Linked DNA regions of Homo sapiens: all the other regions are linked to region 1. Evidence: fine-mapped expression QTL. A gene starts in region 1. Each other region holds a variant in brackets. All regions are shown on one strand. Distances are between the middles of the regions.

Evidence for each region. PIP is the estimated chance that this variant, and not a neighbour inherited with it, causes the effect. A credible set is the group of variants that fine-mapping cannot tell apart.
Region 2: its variant is the best candidate, but not a certain one, in a credible set for the expression of IFT43 in whole blood (TOPMed, PIP 0.83).
Region 3: its variant is the best candidate, but not a certain one, in a credible set for the expression of IFT43 in whole blood (TOPMed, PIP 0.76).

What each region holds. Positions count from the first base shown.
Region 1 is chr14:75,982,620-75,987,842 of GRCh38, forward strand. It overlaps IFT43 (intraflagellar transport 43), which reads left to right and starts at 3,144. Exons shown (of 9, transcript NM_001102564.3): 1 at 3,144-3,221. The coding sequence starts at 3,168. It also overlaps a transcript of TGFB3 not described here. RefSeq lists enhancers at 1-10, 2,797-3,298 and silencers at 51-170, 3,125-3,434.
Region 2 is chr14:76,056,071-76,061,293 of GRCh38, forward strand. It overlaps IFT43 (intraflagellar transport 43), which reads left to right. Exons shown (of 9, transcript NM_001102564.3): 4 at 2,572-2,604; 5 at 3,257-3,303. Among named protein-coding and RNA genes, the nearest start is that of IFT43, 73 kb to the left of the region's middle. The variant CT/C (reference allele first, on the strand shown) is at 2,557.
Region 3 is chr14:76,080,344-76,085,566 of GRCh38, forward strand. It overlaps IFT43 (intraflagellar transport 43), which reads left to right. Exons shown (of 9, transcript NM_001102564.3): 6 at 1,952-2,024; 7 at 2,274-2,349; 8 at 2,884-2,946; 9 at 3,115-3,399. The coding sequence ends at 3,234. It overlaps LOC105370573 (a long non-coding RNA gene), which reads right to left and starts at 310. Exons shown (of 2, transcript XR_007064270.1): 1 at 219-310. RefSeq lists an enhancer at 3,541-4,527. The variant G/A (reference allele first, on the strand shown) is at 2,249.

The DNA.
Region 1 (5,223 bases):
GAGGCCGCCAGTGAAGGAGCTCGGCTGGTCGGGAGCCGGGGAGGCTCGGGGGCTGGGGGCTGCGGGGTGGGGGCTGAGGGGCGGGAGAAGGGGCTGCGGTAGAGAGCGAGAAAAACAAGACCCAGGCCCCGAGGAATCGCCTCCCTCCCGGCCCGACGTGCGCACGAGCGCACCTCTCCCTCCCCGACCGCCGCTCCGGAGCCGCTCTCGCAGAAATGTCATCCAGATGTTCAGCCTCCCTCCCCGCCGAGGTCTCCGCAGGGAGCTGCGCCAGCGAGCGCGAAGTCAGCAGTTGGCCCGAGCCCATTTCCCAGATGGGTGAGGGGAAGTCGGCTCTGTGCTTTCGCTCCTCTTCTCGGCCCGAACCTCTAGGCCTTTTCCCACGAGCAGCCAAGGGAGGGTAGGGCACGTGGCTCCCCGCACCCCGCAACACAGGGCTTGCCTCTGAACTGAACTTTCCTGAGAGTGAGTGCCGCTCCCACCCCATCTCACTCCAGCCTTCCTGGACCCTTTCTGAGAGGTCTGGCTTCCAGGCCACTAACTGAAGGGGCTGTTCTCTGTATCCCAGCACAGCGGTGGGTCACTTTACGGATGAGGAAACTGAGGCATAGAGTTTTTTGTTTTTTTTTTTACAGACCACACTGCTTGTGAGTGATGGAGGCGATATTTTACACAGGCTATCTAGCTTGGGTAGGCATTACTTTCATTTGCAAAACCAATGGGAAACCTAGGGGTAGAAACTTTAAAAGTAACTTGCCCAAGGTCACATAGTTATTAGGTGTCAGCTGTTGGGATTTGGACCCAGGACGTTGCCAGATTCTGGACTTAATTACTATGCTATACTGCCTCTGAAATTTCAGAAAAAGTTTAATGTTTACTATATACCAGGCACTATTCTAGGCTCTGTGAAGAATATCAGTGAACGAAACAAAACTCCTGCCCTCAGGGAAATTTTATTTTAGAGGCAGGGGTGGGGCAGTGGAGGAGGCGATAAACTAAATAAATATGTAAATGATGTAGTACGGTAAAAAGTGCTGAGCCAGGTGCAGTGGCTCACGCCTGTAATCCCAGCATTTGGGGAGGCCCATGCAGGAGGATTACTTGAGCTCAGGAATTCGAGACCAGCCCCAGCAACACGGCGAAACCCAGTCTCTACAAAAAAATGGAAAAATTAGCCCGGCATGTTGGCGCAGGCATCTACTTGGGAGGCTGAGGCAGGATAATCACTTGAGCCAGGGAGGCAGAGTTTACAGGGGGCCAAGATTGCACCACTGCACTCCAGCCTGGACGACAGAGCAAGACCGTGTCTCAAACAGACAAGCAAACAAACAAATGTGGTGTGGCAGAAAATCAAGCAGGGAAGGAGGATGGGGTGTGCCTAGGTTGGGGGATGTTGCAGTTTCAAATAGGGTGATAAGGGAAGGCCTTTGAGCAGACAGTTGCAAGATAGGAAGGAAAATTATTAAAGTTATACTTTTTTGGACTCCACCTCTACCAAATCAGTCTCCAGAGCTGAGGCCCTGGCATCTCTGTTTCTTTACAAACCTCACACGTGATTCAGGTGCTAAGCAAGTTCTGGAAGCTACTACTGCAGGGTACCTCTCTGCCCAGAGTGAGGACCATTTGCCTTCTGTTTTCAGCAAGTTGGGGAAGAAGTGGGGGTGAAGGTCTGGAAACTGACTATAAGGTGATGGTCGTATGCTGTGAGCTTACAAGAAATGGAAAAATCCAAAGATTAATCCCTTCTTCCTCATCTGGTGCCGAAGAAGAAGGGAACAAGGGATTCATTGGAGCCTATATTTCATCTGTCTTGGATTTTTGGCAATGAGTGTTTCTTCAGATTAAAATCTAACAAAGTATTCTCACTGAGAAGCAAGTTAACAAAGGATCTTAGAGATAATCTCTAAAGTAATTACAAGGGAGGAAACTGATAGCGGAAAGGGCTCTGCTCTGACTACACAGGTAGTTTTCAGGAGAGCTAAGATGAGAACACAGCTCTTCTGATATCCAGGCCAGTGCTCTTGCTGTCACAGGCATGCTAACACACAGTCCTATCCAGTAACATGTGTGACTGAACTGAGTGATTTACTGGATATTTAAGAAATGCTTGCAATGAGGTTTCAGGGGTGCTACTCCCACTTCCGAATCCTTGCTTTTAACCTGTGTCCATCCAGGCCTTCCCCTCAACATAATACTGGAATGTTGTTTGCTTTCAGGGCTATCAGCCCATCTCCTATGGATCTCAGCCAACCAGTGTCAGGGACCTGGCCAGTGATATTGACTTGGAGATCTCATATGAAGAGTCAACAAAGACGCAACTTAAATGCCCCATTAGGCTGGGAATTTGTGGTACATCTCCCTCTGCCAGCCTAGGAGAATGGCTGGCACCCAGTAGTATGTGCTGGAGATAAATACTCCAGTAATGTCTGGTGTCAGAAGGGCATTTGGCTCTGCTGCTTGGCACTTAGGTGATTTTCCTCAAGCCCCTTCTTTGTACCTCAGTGTGCTTTATTGTTGTGTTAGAGATACTACTGCTACTCACTTTGCGGGATTATTGGGATTTAATGAGATATTGAATATTTGTACTTTTGAAAGTTATTACTACTCAGCTATTTGATGTGTTGATTCAGCCTCTCTGTAAACTTCTTGAAGGCAGAGATTATGTATATTGCAGTTTCCATAATTCATGGTAAACCATTTATTACACCTGATTCCCTGTTTTCTCATCTGTCAAATGGAAACAATACCACTTATCTTGCTTCCCACACAAGGTTGTTAATGCCCCTCACGTTAAGCCAATAACTGTGACGGCCTTCTGTACCTTGCAAAGAGCTGTACAAGTGGGAGGCATCAGTATAGCAGTAGTAGTGCTTTGCACTTAATATATTGATATATTTAAACAGAGCTACAAATACAGACAGTTCCTAACGACCAAATTATTTTACCGTCTCGCAGGAGCAGCGTTGGCGAGTTTTAATAACCGGAGGTTGCTTCCAGATGTCAAGCAAGGCAGATTTAAGAAAGATTCGGTAGTTTGGAGGATGGCACACAGAATCCAGGAACCATGCTGCGTACCCTTTAAAAATTGGGGTGGAGGGGCGGGGCTGTTAGCAGGGACGCGTCTGGGCCAGTCGGTTTCCAGGAAGTGACGTCAGGCGGCCGCGGAGATGGAGGATTTGCTCGACTTGGACGAGGAGCTTCGCTACAGCTTGGCTACCTCCGTGAGGACCAATTCGGGGGCCTTGGGGGCCAGGATTTGGCGGGTGGGGAGGAGCGACCCCGCCGGCCCCGACTTCTCTGAGGCGACTCAGGGCGGCAGGCCTCGCGCCGCGCCGGGTGAGGCCCAGAAGGAGGCAGCCTCACCGCCCCGCCCCCAGGCCACTGTGGGCTCCGCCGCTGCTGGCCTGGGGTTTGCTTTCTTTAAAATCCTCAGAAAGTAGAAAACACCCTGTCCCCGCCGGCGTCTAGGACCGTGGGAAATTTCCGAGCCTTTCTCCGTTTTCTAGAGCCCCGAGTGCGAACTTCCCCAGAACAGATCGATCACAGGGTGATAGGGGAGCCCCGGCCGGGGTCGCACTCGCTCCCATCCTAGAGTTTTTCCTTTGGGACACCTCGTCGCAGAAGTTCCTGCAAAAGCCGCACTGTTTTATGCATGGAAGGGAGGCAGGCAGGGACGGCCTTTCTTCCCGGTAATCCCCGTGGGGAGGTGGGAGTTAACCTCAGTTACCTCAGTAGTTAAGGAAACCAAGACCGATTTGTAACGTGAGGGAGTGATTAGGTGCTCAGGCACTGAGGCCAGATGGAGCATAGAGCTGTTGCCTGGGTTCAAAAAAAAAAAAAAAACCTAAAAAACGATTTAACCTTTCCGAGCCTTGGTTTCCTTATGCCTAGAATGGAGGTGTTACAGTGAAAAGGAAATGCAACAATACATGGGAAGCGTGTAACTCAGTGCTTGGCATATGTTATCACGGAAGAGGTCAGAAGAGGTTAGCTACTGCTGCCTATGAGGCTGTGGTTTACCCAGCGTTATAGTTAGTAAATAATGGAGCTAGATTCAAGACCCAAGTTCAGTGTCTACCTTCCTCCTTTGTAACCCCCATCAGGCCTTTTTATCTTTAAAACTGGTTAGGATCGCACTTACTAAAAGATTGGGCCCCAGAGCAAGTCTTTAGTGTCTGCTGTGAAATCTCTAAGTGTTTTGAAGGTCACCAGGCCTGCTGATACGTGAATGTTTTTTAGTACCTGGGGATGTGAATGTAGTTATTCATTCATTCAACAAATATTTATTGAGCCCCTACTGTGTATCAGGCAGTGTCCTAGGTGCTGGAGATACAGCAATGAATAAAGCAAAGTTCCTGCCCTCATGTGATTATGTTGTAGTGGGAGAAGATGGGCAATAAATAGACTACATTTAACATACACAAAAATCAGGCAGTAAAGAAGTTTTTCTACCCTATGGATCTATACAGGGTCTTCAAAAAGTTTAAAACCTTGAAATACTTAAAAATTATTAGAGAAAACACCTGTGAACAGCATTTAGCGACAAGATCATTGAATTTTTGTTTTAGCACAACCGCCATATGTAGGATGCTGTATTCAGATACTCAGTGCTGTGACAAATGGAAAAGGGCAACCATGGTGAAGGGATGGAATTGTCTGACTTGAGAAGAAAATAAGCTGCTTATTATCAGAAAGATTGTTTCCACCATCCCTGAAACCTAAATGACACTACAATTTGAAGTGTCGACATTGCATAAGAGTTTTTACGAGCTCTTCTGTAACCCCTCTCAGTTTAGTGGGGCAGTCAGTCCTTAGAACATCTTAAAACAAGTTTCAGCAGGGTAGAGTGGAAAGCACCCAGGAAACCCAGGATCTGAAATCAGAAGGCTTTGCTCCTAGGTTTATGTCAGCCACTTCATCACCTTCCTAGGCCTCAGTTTCCTCCTTTGTAAAATGACAGCAGTCTCAGTTTCTGTCCATTATTGTGAGAATCAAAGGAAGCCACATTAAATGAGATCTAAAAGTGCTTATATTAATGCTGTTTTTTTTAAACAAAGTAAGCAAAAGTATAAATATTTCAGCACCCAAGAGTCTGACTAAATAAAGTTTTGTTTATGTGCTGGGAAGCCTTAGAGGCAGAGTCTCCACCGGAGGGCCTTGGGAAACACCTGCAAATGATTCATTTGATGGCCAAGAATTTTGAAGTGCTCTGATTTCCAAAGA
Region 2 (5,223 bases), 73 kb after region 1:
TTACATTAAAACAGAACAAAACAAAAAATAGACAGCAGTATGGTTTAGACCAAACTCATCTGCAGGCTAGGTAAGGCTGGGAAGTGGCCAGTGTTCGGTCTGTGACCCAGATCAGAGGCAGGGCGCACCATCCCACTCAGTGCGCTCCCAGAACCCGTTATTTCTGGCAGAGAGAGAGAATGAGAGAGAACACGCCACCTGAGGGCATCCCTGCTGCCCGTCCTTGAGGACTCCATTTGATCTTTCTTCCTTCCTCTGTTGGGAGAAAAGGGAGAGGGGAGAGTCCTTGGGCTCCCCCTAGAGTGAGAGAGCAGGATGTGGGCTCAGCAGCAATTAAGCTGAATATTAAACTCATCCCCCTTTTGGATATTGAGTGGATAAATGGCAATTAATCAGCCTCCCCCGAAAGATTAGCATTATCATTATTGTTTCCTTCAGACAGAATCGCCACTGGTTTTGCCACCGCACATTGTGTAGGGAAGGAACGATTCGGTCATAACTCCTGAGGGTAATTGGAGACAAATATGTCTCTTATGTACACAACGAAGGCGCCAGCCTTCCTTCCTAGCCTCTTTAATCCCGGGATTCTTCTTTTATCCCTGTTTTCATCCAAGCACATCTACCCTTGGTGACATTAGCTGTGTCATTCGGACAATGGGGGTATAGAGTTTAACTTCATGAGGACAATTAGAGGCATTGGTCCTTGGGGACGGCGTGAACTGGGAAGACAGCTTCTGTCCTCCCACACAGACAGAAGGTGGCTTTGATGGCTACTGGGTGCTCTTCCTTTAGGATTCCGTTTACTTAGAATAGGCATTGGAAGCCTATAGCATCCAGCAACACCAGGCTGGGGATGCCCTGGGCACCCTGCAGTGGTTTCTCTTTGGTGCCTCCCACTACCCATTCTGTCTCCTTCTGCCCTCATAACCTTCATTGCTGAGTCTCCTTTATCTCTCTTTAAGGGTCAGAAACTGCAGCCTGGGAGATTCCCTTAGAGTTGTTACACCCTGTTCTTCCAGCTTGACCTACCCATTCTCCCACCTCACTTCAGCCGTCATTCTTCCTTTTTAAAAATGGTACAGTTGATAGAGTCTAAATTCCATGGAAAGCAGTCTATTTAAACTTTGACTTACTTTTTAAAATCATTTTAATTATTTTATTTTATATTATTATTTTTTTTGAGACGGAGTCTCACTCTGTTGCTAGGCTGGAGTGAAATGGCGTGATCTTGGCTCACCGCAACCTCCACCTTCCGTGTTCAAGCGATTCTCCTGTCTCAGCCTCTGAGTAGCTGGGATTACAGGTGCCCACCACCATACCTGGCTAATTTTTGTATGTTTAGTAGAGATGGGGTTTCACCATGTTGGACGGGCTGGTCTCAAACTCCTGACCTCAAATGATCCACCTGCCTTGGCCTCCCAAAGTATTAGAATTACAGGCGTGAGCCACTGTGCCTGGCTGAAATTTTTATTTTTTAATTGACAAAAAAAAAAAAAATGAATGTAGAATTCTACTTTTGGCAGGGGGAGTTATTTGCGTTTTGCAAGAATTGCTGGTTGGCTCCTCGAAACCAATTCTTACTGGCAAGGCTGGTGGCCTACCCTGTCAAGGTCTACATCCTGCCTCCAGGCCATTTGCCGCCCTTTGCCCCCATCCTTTGCTCTTGCTCATCATGGTGCTAGATTTCTGACTTCAAATAACTCATTTAAAACAAACAAACAAAAAACCCTATGATGACAGAATAGTGGAAGTTTTCAGACATACAAAAATGTAATCTCCATGTACCCAATATTCAACTTTAATAATCATCAACATTTCGCCAGTCTTATTAGAAAACTTCACATCAGTGTTTCTCAGAGTGTGAGTAGTGACCCACTTAGATTAGAATTTAAAAATGCATATTCCTGGGCTGCCCCCACCCACCCAGACCAGCTGATTCAGAAATCTCCCTGCCAGGCCCACCAATCTGTGTATCTAACAGGCCCCGCGGATGGTTCTTATGCACCCTGACGTGTGAGAACCACTACCATAGATACGCGTGTATCAGCCAGGCCCTGTCACTCCTCACCCACCATCACTCAGAAGGTCCTCTCGTCCTTCGTGTGAAGGGCACAGAAAAGCAGTTCCAAAGTCTGAAGCCTGAACTGCGAGGCGAGGACATCCCTTTTTGCTCGTTGCAAGTCGCAAGTGCTGACAGCTAACAACACCAAATAAGACCCAGGGTCTCAGTCCTAAGAAAGCACTCTATAAATCAGTCAGTTAATTGCTGAAAGAAAAGAGGGCACTGAATCATCTGTATCTATTTGAATTTTAAGCCACTCGCTCAACCTGCACTTACACTCTCAACAATCCAATTTGGAGTGAGGCTGACATAAAGCTGTAAGAAGGCACTACAGCATCTTCAGTTCTCTCATGCTGGTTGTGGGGCTTGTCTCTAAAGAGGACTGCAGACAAATAAAGCACTTGAGATATACTAATTTGCCTCCACTTTTGAAACCTTCCTCAAGATACTACCTGGTGCATGAGACTAGTGGGCTCTCAAAAACCTTGTCTTTT[CT/C]TTTTTTTTTTCAGGTTTAGGAGGAAGGCTTCTGAAGAAATAGAAGAGTACGTTTCCAGTATTCTTATTCTTATGGTATCCTATGTTGATCTTGGTCAACAGTGCAGTCTTGGTGGTCATGATCTGTTCCACCTATGTTGAACACTGTGTTAGAAGTCTGGGGCTAGAATTATTGATGCCTGCTGAATCCAAGGTTTGGTTAATCCCGCTTCCTCAACTGAAGGTCTGGACCCTGGCATTGATGCCCATGTCCTATCTCCCACTGTGTGGTTTTAGAATTATATGTCCAGGTATCAGGGTACTGGCCCATGCCTTCTGCATTATTGATATAGATGGGCAGAAGCAATACCAGCTTCTAAGCCTTGCCTTCTCATAAGACTTATATCAGAAAAGAAAGAAGTTTTCTAGATAAAGGTGCTGTGAAGGTAGGGCCACCCAGTTTCCTACTCCCAGGGGCGGAAGCTGCATTCATGTCATAGCCTCTGTGATGCTGTCCTCTGGAATAGTGCATCGCACAGCCTGTGCAACCACACACGGCACACCCAGTGGCCTAATTAGGTTTGACTAAGTTGACAGAGAAAAACAGGTTCAGGGACATTTTCATCTAGGAGAAAGAATGGATACAATAAACATTTGGGATGTTCCTTTCCGTGTTTGAAACTCATTTTTTGCTGTCCTTTTCTTCTTTTTTGGGGGCAGTTTCCGCCTCAGACCACAGAGCCTGAATGGATCAGATTATGGAGGAGGTAAGAGGCCCTTGGAGGAAGTCAAAAGGTCTTCTAGAGAGGCCCCAGAACATTTCCTGGGCTACAGCTAAGGCACTGTTGGCTGCAGCATCACTGAAGACATTTGCAGTGGTCTTCTGACGCATGCTGATGCACATCTTCATGCCTTGCTGAATGCTGCCACCTCTACCTGGAGTATCTCTCCCTTCTTTATCTGATAACCCTGCTTATCCTTCAAAAGGTCAGCCAAAGCATCACTTCCCCTGAAACATCTTCCCTTCCCATCCCACTCCCTCTCTCACTGGATGTTCTTTCTCCATGCTCCTCTAACCTCCTTGGCAAACCAACATTGTAATAACATGGCCAATATTTACTAGGTGTTGACTATATCCCAAGCACTGTCCTTCCAGTTTACACATGTTAAAGCATTTTCTCTCACCACAACCCCGTAGTACTACTATTATCCCCATTTTACAGTTGTGGAAACGAAGGCATGGAGAGGTTAAGTAAGTTGCCCAAGGTCACACAGTTGCTAAGTGAGTAGAGCCAGGATTTGAGTACAGTTAGGATGTACTGTGCTTTAACTCTTTGTTGGCTTGATTGTTTTCCCACCAGACCTCTAAGCTTCTTGATGGCAGACAACACATGTTCTTTATCTTTGCATCTCCAGTGTGTGACGCATAGTAGTTAGTTAATGGCTAGCTATATAAACGCAGGGAAAACAGTACTAACAAGGCAAGTAGCTGTGGCACAGTGGAAGCCTATGTTCAAATATCAGGAGAAAAGATGAAGTTTGTGTGTGTCTCTAAAATGAAGCCTTCTAGGGAGGAGATTACGTAGGGGATCCAAATTATTATTGTTATTATTATTATTATTATTTTTTGAGGCAGAGTCTCGCTGTGTCACCCAGACTGGAGTGCAGTGGTGCAATCTTGGCTCACTGAAACCTCTGCCTCCCAGGTTCAAGTGATTCTCCTGCCTCAGCCTCCCGAGTAGCTGGGGTTGCAGGTGCATGCCACCACACCCAGCTAATTTTTTGTATTTTTAGTAGAGATGGGGTTTCACCATGTTGGCCAGGCTGGTCTCTAACACCTGACCTCAAGTGATCCTCCCACCTTGGCTTCCCAAAGTGCTGAGATTACAGCCGTGAGCCACCGCGCCCGGCCCCAAATTGTCAAAGCCTTTTTTTTTTAGACACACTTATTTATAATTTTCACACTCCTTGTTTGTTTGTGTAGATCCTAGTTTCTATCTGGCATCAGTTTCCTTCAGCCTGAAAAACTTTATCATTATTTTGTAGAACAGGTTGTCTGGCAAGAAATTCTGTCTGCTTTATTTGTCTGAAAATGTCATCTTCAACTTTTTACCAGACACAGAATTCTAGGCTGACAATTTTTTTCTTTTAGCATTTTAAATAGTTATTTTATTGTCTTTGGCCTTCTTTCTTTCTTCCCTCCCTTCCTCCCTCCCTCCCTTTCTTCCTTCCTTCCTTCCTTCCTTCCTTCCTTCTTTTCTTTCCTTTTCCTGCTCTCCCCTCCCCTCTCTTTTCTTTTCTTTCTTTTTTTTGAGACAGGGTCTCACTCCATCGTCCAGGCTGGAGTGCAGTGCCATGATCTTGGGCCCACTGCAACCTCCACCTCCTGGGTTTAAGTAATTCTCCTGCCTCAGCCTCCTGACTAGCTGGGACTACAGTCACATGCCACCACACCTGGCTAATTTGTGTATTTTTAGTAGAGACAGAGTTTTACCATGTTGGCCAGTTTGGTCTCAAACTCCTGACCTCAAGTGATCCACCCGCTGTAATAGGTGTGAGCCACCTCGCCTGGCCTACATTGTTTCTGATGAGAAGACGATCATTATTCTTATCTTTGTTCCCCTGTATGTAATGTATCTTTCCCCCTATCTGCTTTTAAGATTTCTTCTCCATTATCAGTTATTTTC
Region 3 (5,223 bases), 98 kb after region 1:
AGCCCCACACTCTTTGTGCACATTTGGAGGAGGGGGTTGGGGACGAAGAGGGAAGCCTGTGGGGAGTGAGAGTGGACATCGGGCAGAAGTGCAATTCCTCAGAGCCCCAAGACGCTGGGCAGAGTTGACAGGACCCAAATGCTAAAGTTGTGGAGGGAAAGGGGAGTTTGGGAAGACCCTGTCCTGAGCCCTAAACTCAGCACAGTGCATTTTCTTACCAACTTCTGAATATTCATCTCAGGCTGGATTCTGCACCCGAGGAGAGCCAGGCACACTCCAAAACTGTCACACTGCCGATGGTGCGTGGCACAGCCAGCTTCCTCTCTGTCCCTCCATAGGGCCTGTGCAGTCTTACCAGCCTGGGGAACGGCATTCTCAGCAGCCTGCACAATGGACTGTATTAATCACGTAGAACGAGAGGGAAAAAGAAAGCTAAATTTCTATTAGCATAAGAAATAGAATCTTAGAGCATTCCATCTCCAATTCTCTAGCAGGATAGAGAGATATAATCTAAGCTCTGAACAGCTTCTTTCTAGCTATAAGACTTGCTAAATGTGGTTCATTATTTGGGGGGTGGTGGATGTGTCTCTGCTTTATTTTCCCTAGCAGCAATTTCTTTCTATTTTTATCCCTTTTCACTCTTTTTATCCCTTGTTTTCTCTGCCTGTCTCTTTCTGTTGAATTTTCTCTGTGTCTGTCTCTCCTTTGCATGCTCTCTTTTTCCAGGTACAACATCTGTGCCTCCACAGTCGGAAGTCATAATAAAGACACCAGGCTTGGAACTGACATTTCCATCCTCTGGCGTCACTTGACTAGAGTGATCAAAAGTCGAAATCACGAATTGCCTGAAAGTGGCAAGGGCCTTCTCAGCTGTTGTTGAAATGATTTGCACCTCTTTGAAAACTAAGATTGAATTCAGTCCATGAAAGCAGAAATGAAAGATGTCTTCACCAGTCTACCTTTGGGATTTCTCCTTCTTTCCGTGTTTACAGTTGCTTTGGGAATTCCAGGACTGTCTCACCCCACCAGGCCTTTTTTCTTGCACCATCCCTCCCTTCTCCCCCACCCCTGACCGTTTAAAACAAAATGTCTCAACCAGTCAGTGATACTCACTTGGAGAAGGAAATGTTTCTTTAGGATGTTAGGTTGACCCATGAGAACATGGACAATTTTTGGTCACTTAAGCAAGTTGCCACAATTAAGGGATGGACTGGTTTCCCAGTTCTCTGTTTGCATGATTTTGTTGGACTGGTGGAAGAAATGGCCTCGTGTCTCCTCGTATGTTGTCTGGAGAGTTCAGAGATGGAAAATCTTGAGACAGCAAGAAAAGCATGATTGTAGAATCAGCATCCCTGATTACATTAGACCTGGCAAATGGACGCCTGGATCCCAGGGAGTCAGGCTATGTCATTAGATGGAAGATGCCCTTGAGATGCAGGCTGAGGGCCCTGATGATTGCACTGCGGGGCTAATGCACATAGAGATCTGGGTCATGAGGAGTGGCACTCACTGCGGCATCCGCTTTGTGACACTACATGTTCTCAGTTCCTCTGTCTCTGACCATGCCAGGCTCACTTGTCAGTTCCTCTTCTTTCCTCTAATAAGCCCTTTGTTACATTTATTTCTTTACATTTCTCCTTGGAGATCCACTGCAGTGGCTTCTAACCTGTTGCACGCGTCAGAATCACCAAGGAACGCCTGGGAAAAAAATCTGGATGCTTGAGCGTGACCCAGGAGGTTCTATCTCAGCAGGTTCTGGAATGAGGCCTGGGATTCAGACATCGTTGAAACTCCACCTTTGATCCTACCCCTAGTTTGTATCTGAGTGTCCTTCCTGCCCCAGCCCACAGCCCCATGGCTGGTGTGTTGAAGGGGAATGAGTAAGAAGTGGAGAAGCAGGCACAATCCCTATGAGTTCTGCAGACAGTGTTGCCTCTGCCTCTCCTTGCAGATATTCCTATCATTCCGGATCTGGAGGAAGTACAGGAAGAAGACTTTGTTTTGCAGGTGGCAGCCCCTCCCAGGTAGGTTAAATCAGATATGATTGGGGAGGCAAAGAACACGTGAATTAATACACTCCAGATATCATCTATAGTGGACCTTGATGTCAATCTGGATCTTTCTGGTGTTGGGCTCCATCCAGGGTTCCCATTTTGTTATTCCCATTCTGGTCATCCCCTGCTGTATACAAGGTTCTGGGGACGGTGGCCCGGCAGCACTCCTGGAACAGGTCCTGCCTGGGGTTCCC[G/A]CCTCTCGCTCTCTCTTTCCTTCAGCATCCAGATAAAGCGGGTGATGACCTACCGTGACCTGGACAATGACCTCATGAAGTACTCAGCCATTCAGACACTGGTGAGTGGAACAGCTTCTGCATAGAGAGGCGGGCTCCAAGCAATGGGCTTCAATCCGTAGAGATTTCTCAGTTCCTCCCAAGCTATACAGCGCCTCCACCAGTCCCCTGAGGCTGCCTGCCTGGCACCCATACCTCTGCTGCAGGTTTTATCATCATTCATCTCACAGCAACCCTGGACCCAACATAGTACAGTGTTTCTCAGTGCCAGGCTCCCACCTGCCTCCATGGCTGCCCACTTGGCACCTGATGGCACCCCACTCCCCTCTGTCCCTGTGGCTGTACTGCTGTCACACTCGGTCCTCCTGGTATGGTCCTTTGCCCCAAAGCACGCCCAGCATGTGGGAAGCATAGCCTTCCCTCATTTCTCAGTGGGCATGTGGTTCATTCATGATTTTACTCTCTTGTGAAGGCATTCCTGCAGGTCTCAGTTTGGGAAGTTCTGACACACAAAAACTGATCCCGGTTTTGTGAGAAAGAGTTGCCTGAAAGCCCTCAAGGTGCTCAGCCTGACCTTTTTTTGTTTGCATTCACAGGATGGGGAGATCGACCTGAAACTCCTCACCAAAGTGCTCGCGCCGGAGCACGAAGTCCGGGAGGTACAGTGGTGGCAGCAATTCCCCGGTCTCTCAGCTCTGGCATTCCCATAACCAGCCGACTCCCGGGCTGGCCTGTGCCTCCCTGAGGCCTGGATGGGAGGGAGAAGTCAGCTACAGTTGAGGGAAAAGGCCTTTCTTTGTCTTACCCAGCGAAACCCTTCTTGGCAGGATGATGTCGGCTGGGACTGGGACCATCTGTTCACTGAGGTGTCCTCAGAGGTCCTCACTGAGTGGGACCCACTGCAGACGGAGAAGGAGGACCCTGCGGGGCAGGCCAGGCACACCTGAGCCCGTCACCCATGCTCTAGACATGAAGAAATGCAATGAGCTTAAAGCTAAAGAAGCTTGTAAGCAGCTCCGAATTTTTACCTGGAATATTTTGTAATAAAAATATTTATATTCAGTCAACCACATTGGATAATTCAATTGCAATAAATTGCTTATTCTGTGCCATCTCCTCCATTTCTTTCCAGTCTCTTCTTGGAAAATGTATCACAAGTGAAGGAGAACAGCTTTTAAACCAGCTGATAGGAACTCAGAACTCGCGGCCTTGTTGCGGAGCATGTGGGAGAGTTCGATTCAGGCGGAGAAGGAGTGGGCACTCCTACTGAAAGCTGTTCACTTCTCGGGAGGTTTCAAACAGTTGCCTGCTGGGGTTCTGGGGCGGGGCCTCCCTTCCCGTGGGTGCTCTGGGCCCTTTGTGACCTTAGTGACGCAGCACTGCCACCTGCATCATAGGCTTCCAGGCAGCTGCAGCGGAGGGAGGAGGCGGCGGGAGGGATAAGGAGACTCATTCTTCACTCGCATCAGGGTTTGGTGGCTGTTGTGACAATATTCTCCTTTCTCCCCTCTTCCTGCAGTCCATGCCTTGAGCTCCAAAAGCTTCTACAGGTTCCCAGAGCCTCATTTCTGATTCTCATGGGAAGGGGCCAGCCAGCAGCCCTGAGAATTCCATGGAAGCCCTCTCTTACAGAGCCTGGGCCTCCCTTCTCCTTATCCTTTTAGATACGTTGCAGCCATCTCCACCGCTGCAAGTATTATAACCGCCTGGTTCCAAGATGTGCTGAGATCAGGAGCAGAGTCCCACCCTTCTCCTAAACAGAGCTGTCTTTTGTTTTTGTTTTTCTCTTTTCCTCCCTGAGACTTCTTATCTGAGGACAGAGCCCCTTCGCTGCCTGCTTCTCTTGGATGCGGCTTTGGGTTAGGCTGGCAGCAGCTAACTAAGGCCCACTCCCCGGCCATAGGGAGCGCTGAGTGCTTCTGTTATCCTGCCTGGAAAGCCCTTCATTAAAATTCAGAAAAACAAAGAGGCTCAACACATCAAAAACCCACTGGGGGGTTATTTTTGTGTGACTACGGTGCCCTTCCCCGGCGAGCCACATGGCTCCAGAACAGGCAGAGCGAATGCTTGTCTGTTAATTATAAACTCGGGGATTTAGTGGCTTTAGGGTTCCATTTCCTCCTTTTCCAGAGTCACACTTTTAGCCCAGGCAGCCCCTCTTTGGAATAATTCCCATGGCCACTGAAAAGTTTCCATCCAGGCTAGTTTTGCTTGAGTCTACATCAGTCTGAAACCCAAAGGAGAAAGGCTGTATTTCTACTCCCTTAATTACTGGAAATCCAACTGCCTCAGGACTCTGATAACCTTGGAGGTCTCCAGCCAGCCTGAGCAAGTGGCTAGGGGCTGACTTCCTTTCTCCCTTTATTTTACAACAGCAGCAACAAGATCTAACATGGAGCTCTCACTGCATGCCAGGTGCTGGGTTCAGCACACAGGAATGATCAGATTTCATCCTCACAGCCTCCCAGTAAAGCAGATGCTGTGGTTATCCCATTTTACAGATGAGGAAACAGACTCAGAGAGGTTAAGAGATCGCCCAAGATTATCCAGCTGAGTGGCAGAGCTGGAATTCCAAGTTCTGATGCCACAGCGCTTTACCACCTGTGTTTCTGTTACCCACTGCTGCCTTCATCTTGGGAAAGTAATCTAGTTTATAGCAGACAGAATTTACAAGTTCACTGGGAGAAAGAAGTCCACTGCCACCACCCCTCCCCGTCCCCACTCTTGTCTGTGGAGTGACCACAGAGCAGAGGGCTTCTGTCAGTCCCCTGGTGTGAAGCCTGGCAACATAGGTGAGCTCAAGAGTCCTGGCCCCAGGGCAGTGGGACTGGGTAGGAGCAGCTCTACGTTGAGCAAACTGAGCTCAGCCAAATCAGGTCCAGGCCACATGTGACTGAGTCTCCTTTCACTTGTCCTGTGCCCTGATCATGTCCTGT